Linked DNA regions of Homo sapiens: region 2 is linked to region 1. Evidence: fine-mapped expression QTL. A gene starts in region 1. The other region holds a variant in brackets. All regions are shown on one strand. Distances are between the middles of the regions. Region 1 holds the start of FAM184B (family with sequence similarity 184 member B). Region 2 overlaps FAM184B (family with sequence similarity 184 member B).

The links. PIP is the estimated chance that this variant, and not a neighbour inherited with it, causes the effect.
Region 2: its variant is the best candidate, but not a certain one, in a credible set for the expression of FAM184B in prefrontal cortex (BrainSeq, PIP 0.72).

The regions. Positions count from the first base shown.
Region 1 is chr4:17,779,915-17,782,820 of GRCh38, forward strand. It overlaps FAM184B (family with sequence similarity 184 member B), which reads right to left and starts at 1,707. Exons shown (of 18, transcript NM_015688.2): 1 at 1,245-1,707. The coding sequence starts at 1,385.
Region 2 is chr4:17,742,813-17,745,718 of GRCh38, forward strand. All of the region lies in intron 1 of FAM184B (family with sequence similarity 184 member B), which reads right to left. Among named protein-coding and RNA genes, the nearest start is that of FAM184B, 37 kb to the right of the region's middle. The variant T/TCA (reference allele first, on the strand shown) is at 1,649.

The sequences.
Region 1 (2,906 bases):
AATAAATACATGTTTTGGTTGATGTCACTATTTACATGAATGTAGGTTAGATCAATAGTACCAGCTATACATGTCAAGAACGCTAAGGGCTATCTCCAGTCTCTTTTTTCATTCCTTGACCAAAGAGAGCCCTGTTTGGAGACAGGCTCACGTGCAAAGAATGTGAAGTTAATGAGACAGGTGGGAGAAGGCGGCTAGTGTTCAATTCCAAGCCCCTGTGCTCTATTCCTCCTGGCAAAATAGTGAGGTTGGCGGGACAGGGGGAGGGGAATGTCTGTGATCCCACAAAAAAATGTGTGGGAAGTGAGAGGGAGATGGTGAGGAAAGAGAGCATGTTCCAGACGCTACAGGACAGACCTGGACCTGACCTCTCCCTGGCGGGCATGGCACCAGGAGTTTATTATGAGACCGAAAGGAAACCCCAAGGCAAACAGCTAAATTCATCCACTTGAAACCTTGTATAGGAGACAGTGAGGGATGTTGTTTTCCATCTAGACAAGGCACAGAGGGGAGTCTGTGACAAGGAGCTTCTAATTGGGGAGCTGCAGAGGGTTAACAAAGAGCACTGGTGGCATCTTTTTGCTGGTCTTCTTGAAAAAGACATAGTCTGGGAAGGTTCAATCAGAGCCCCCTGCACGAGGTAAGGAGGTGGGCTGGCTGACTTCCCTAGGTCCTTCCTAATCCCATAGTTATTTGGTGAATCGTGCTCTTCCCCATTTATGCTCCTACACACGTCTGCACCCAGTTTGATAGTAAGTCCCCTAGGCTGCATTCCAGGTTTAGTACGGTGCCACGCAAGCTGCTGGCACTCAACAAATGACGCAAATATTTGTTGAATGAAGGAATAAATGGATCAAGTGTTTAAATAGAGCCCACATGACCTCCCCAGCTGTAAAGTATGGCAGTTGAATGAAATCACAACATTCTAGGCACTTGAGCAAAGCTGGCGGGGACACACACACACACACGATTCACATTCCCACCTTGGAAAAGCACAGACCACCTGCCCAGCCAGCAGGCTGTGGGAGTTTCCTTGGCAAGGATCCTCTTTCTCTGCTGCTTTAGGATGGTGCCTCTAGAAGGTCAAGTCACCCAGATTTAGGACCGCTTCCCTTCCCGGTTGGCCTCCGAGACAAAGTTTCTGTCTGGATTTGGCCCGGGCCTCCCGGGAGGCGCATCCGCACTGACTCCCGGCTCGGGCGCCCCGGGCGTGCAGCTCGCTGGCCCGCTGCGCCCCACCTTACCTTGGTGAGCTGGGCGATCTTCTTGCACATTTTCACGTGCATCTGGGGATCACAGTCCATTCTCCAGCCGGCGCCACCGTCGGCTTTGGAGCCCTGGCAAGTGCCGGGCGGGTTAATTTTGCTGTTGAGAGCAGAAGCCATCGCTAAAACGCGCCCAGCACTCAGACTCTCTCGTTTTCTCCCTGCCCACCGTGTGCACGTGCGTGCGCGCGCGGGCGTGCGAGCGTGTGGGTTTCTCGGGAGAGGTGGCACTGCAGTCCCGTCGCCTGCACCGCCGCGTGGCCCCAGCTTCCCGAAGGTCTCCGCCTCCCGGGCCCACCCGCGCGCCCACCCTTTTTCCTCTCCTGCTGGTTCTCTGGCTGGCTGGCTCCGCGGGCACCCGCACCCTGCGGCGAGGCGTCGGCGCCCCGCACGTGCCGCTGGCGATCAGTCTGCAGTTCCCCAGCCAGTGCAGGTTTCGTGTGCAAGGGGAGAGCTTCCGCGGCTAGGAGCTGCCGGCCTTGGGGGGTTTGCGGTGGGCGGGCACTGCGCTCTTGGACACGTGGGTGGCGCGCGGCCCTGGACTTGGTGGCGACGGACCCTGCCCGAGGTGGGGATCCCAGGCTAAAGAGGAAGAAGAGCCTCCGGAGAGGGACAGGGCACAGTGACTGGCGGCCTCCGGAGAGGGACAGGGCACAGTGACTGGCGGCTCCCGAGTCTCCGAGCTGATAGCGGAGATGGCGGTGGGGGACGAGATGCTAAGAGAGGGGCGGGTAGGTGAGGGCGAGCCATCGGGACTCAAGGAGGTGTGGGATCCGGGGCGCACGGTGTGGGCCAGCGCCTGAGTTGCGCGAGTGCACAGCGGGGCTGGGGATGGTAGCCTTCCTTTTTGGATCTTGGAGAGGAGCCAGGACATTGCGGGAGGAATACCGGAGATGCCCAAAGAGGAGAAGCCAAGGGGATGGCAGGGTGCGGGTGACCGAAATCTGAGATGAGAAAGTGCGAAACGGGTAATGCGGGAAGCGGTAGGAACGCAAAGACAAAGTCGTTAGGGAGGTAGAAAGGATGGTGGCAGGTGCGGGAAAGGAAGAAGCAAAGAGGAATGGAGCAGTTAGATGAGTAAAAGATGGAACTGAAAATCTTAGCAAACCGAGCCCATTGAAAGTAAAGTGAGTCGTCCAAATCCACACTACTGGCCTTGGGCAGACTGGAGCCAGACTGTCAAGTTTTCGGATTCTGAGCTGGTGTCTGTTTAGTGTTTGGTGAGGGGAGAGGTTAGCGGGCCAAATTTCTTTCTGGCGTGTTCTCTGGTTTCAGACAGTGGACTTTAAGGGAAAGTGACAGCACCGTGATCAGCTTTTCCTAAAGCTCGAATAATAGGTCTTCATGATAGTTTGCATAGTGAATGTATATCATTTATACATTGCCTTTTATCAGAAATTTTAATAATCTTCATAAACCAAGCAAGCTTCAAAGGGTCTCAGAAACCACAGTTCCACCCATCCATACTGAAGGTAACAAAACCCATTTTTGTCGATGAGGAAAATTGACCCAGAAAATTTGTACCAAGTCAGGCAATTACAAGTAGAACTGTTTCTGAAATAGACATTCCTATTCTAGATTCTGTATCAAATGACCGGCCTCGGTTTTTGATTTCTAATTTACCATCTTAAGTTCTCTTTT
Region 2 (2,906 bases), 37 kb before region 1:
TTCCTGGACACCAGACAAGAACCCAGGTGCCAAGAGGGCAAGAACCTGGGTGCCAAGAGGACAGGGGCTGCCACTCTGACCCTCCACTGAGCTGGTTGGCACTTGACCATCCCTGGACAGCAGAGCTGAAAAAGCATTGGTTATACATGCTTGGAGCTGCTGTGGAGCCCCACAGAGCTTGCTCCTGCCAGAGAGGAGTGGCCGGCCATTCCAGCATCCATTTACTCCAGTTCCCGCACTTACTGTCTTGCATGCTTCCTCCTGTGAGGAGTGGCCAGCAGCTGGCTGAGTGAAACGGGCCACTCCAGTTCCTGCCCACAAAGGAGGTCAAGAGAACTATCCTGTCTCATCGAGACCCTGTCCACCCTCACCAAAAAAATAGCAAAGTATGAGAGGTGTAAGTATCTATGTGGGTTGATGGATCCACCAGGCCAGAGTGGCTGGGATGGGGGTGGGGAGAGAGCTCGTGGAAAGAGGGATGGCACCAGTGGTGGAGGCATCTGTCAGCCACCGAAGAATTTAGATTCACTCCTCATGAAATGAGAAGACCTGGAGAGTTTTGAACAGGGTGCCAAAGCTGATTCACCTGTTATAAAGTTCACTCTGGCTGCTGCGTTGAGAGCAGGTGGAAGCAGGGAGACTAGTCAGGGAGACCAGTGAGGAGACATTTATTTTCCAGGTCCCCAGGCACCATCTCTCACCAGCCATTTTCCTCTCTCCCTCTTCACTCCTGCGGTGATCTTCCTCCCCAGCCACTTCAGAAACAAGAATCGTCTTGTGCTCCCTCTGTCCTCATCCAAATGTGCTTTTAAATTCTTTCATCACACTATTCAACAACAGATACTCCTGTAAGCAGATTCATACCCAAGAAAAGCCAAGTGAAGAACAGCAGTTTCTAGAGTCTGCGTAGGGCAGTAGAAGAGGACTATTTTCTCCTCACTGGTTTAGTCAACACTTCTTCAGGTCTTACCCAAGTGTATTAGTTTTCTATTGTTGATAAACAACCACTAACTTGACCACTTAAAACACGTGCTGTATGTCAGCAGTCTAGGTATGGCAGGGTTGGGGTCTTCACTCAGGGTCTCAAGGACCAAAGGAAATCGTGGTGTTGGCCCAGCTGAGTTCTCATCTGAAGGCTCTGGGGAAAAGTCCGTTTCCAAGCTAATTCAGGCTGTGGGCCTAATTCAGTTCCCTGTGGTTATTAGACTGCTGTCAGGGGACTGCTCTCAGCTCCAGAGGCCACCGGCTTTGACTCCTTCACTAACATTTGGTCACATTTCACATCTTTCTGATTTTTCTATGCCTGATCTCTAGACTCAGTTTGAAGGCCTTGTGTAATTAAGCCAGATCTGCTTGGCTCATCTCCCTATCTTAAAGTCAATTTATTTGGGGTCTTAATTACAACTGCAAAGTCCCTTCACAGCAATACCAAGATTAGTGCTTGACTGAATAACTGGGAGAAGGTGCAATAGACCAGGGGCTGCGAATTATGAGCCATCCTAGAAATCTGCCTACTACACCAAGAAAAAGGGAGCACATTGACCCATCTGGGGAAGTGCCTGGAGTAGAAGAGCTGAAGGCGCGAGGCAGGCCTTGGGGGCTGGGACTAGGATTCAATGTGCCATGAGTCACTCATTCTCTCTCTCTC[T/TCA]CACACACACACACACACACACACACACACCACACACACACACACACACACACACCTTTCTCCATTCACCTCTCATCTCTGCTGGTCTTCATTCCGCAGAGTTGCTCCTCCCATGTAACAAGAAAGCCATGTGCCTGTAATCCCAGCTATTCAGGAGGCTGAGGCAGGAGAATAGCTTGAATCCGGGAGGCAGAAGTTGCAGTGAGCCAAGATGGTGCCATTGCACTCCAGCCTGGGGGACAGAGCGAGACTCCATCTCAAAAAAAAAAAAAGAAAAAAGAAAAAAGCCACCAACTGCCCTAGTTCCTGCTATCACAGTTTTGCTTTTCCAGTAAAAAGATAATGTCTTTCTCCTAATGCTTGAATATCAACCTAGAGAAAGAGTCTGATAGAGCCAGCTTGGGTCTGGGATGGGAAGTAGAGTGCTGAGATTGAGAGGCAGCTGGAAGAGGTGAAGAGTTGTCTAAAGGAGGCAGTAGGACGCATGTCAGGTAAGCAGATGCACAGAGCCACTGGGACCTCTTCAGCCGGAGCTGCTGCTTTTCCTCAAAGACCTTACAGCCCTTCTGCATCGCTCTCCTTCCTCTTCTGACCTGCTTAGTGGTCCTGCCTTCTCTAACCTTCAGGGGGCTGACATCTAGCTCTAACATCCACAAGATTAAGTCCAAACCTATAAACTTGGGGCCATGGGATGGGGCCAGGCATTGGAGAGAGAATGCCTTGCAGAATAATCTAGAAAGAATTCTGGACTAGATTTTAGTCCTTGCTCTGCTACTAACCGTGATCATGAACATGTTGCGGTGGCCATGGAGGTTGGCCGCTCAGACCTCCCTTAGAGAGAACCTGATGTGGGGAGTATAGTTGGGTGACAGCTTATACCTTTCACACCTTTGGATTTGCCGTGATATTCACAACAAAGCTTGATTTCCCCCTGCCGCTTACCAAGCTACTTCTAGCCAACTACTAAGTCCGCGGCCTTAGGTACCGCGGCCGGGCTATTTCTGCCCAACACAAAACTCCTTGAATGTTCGATCTTTGCTCAGGGATACTTTACTGGCCTGGCCAAGACCCTTTCATGGCTGTATCGCAGTCTGAGGGTTCTCCTATCCACCCACTTCCTTCCGTCTCCTTTCACATATGCAGACCTGCACCTCCATCAATAGGTGCACCCTGCCTACTCCTGTTCTCTCCCTCATTACCTTTCACAGATATTTCTCCCAATAAATCTCTTGTACATCTAAATTCTTCTTGGTTTCTG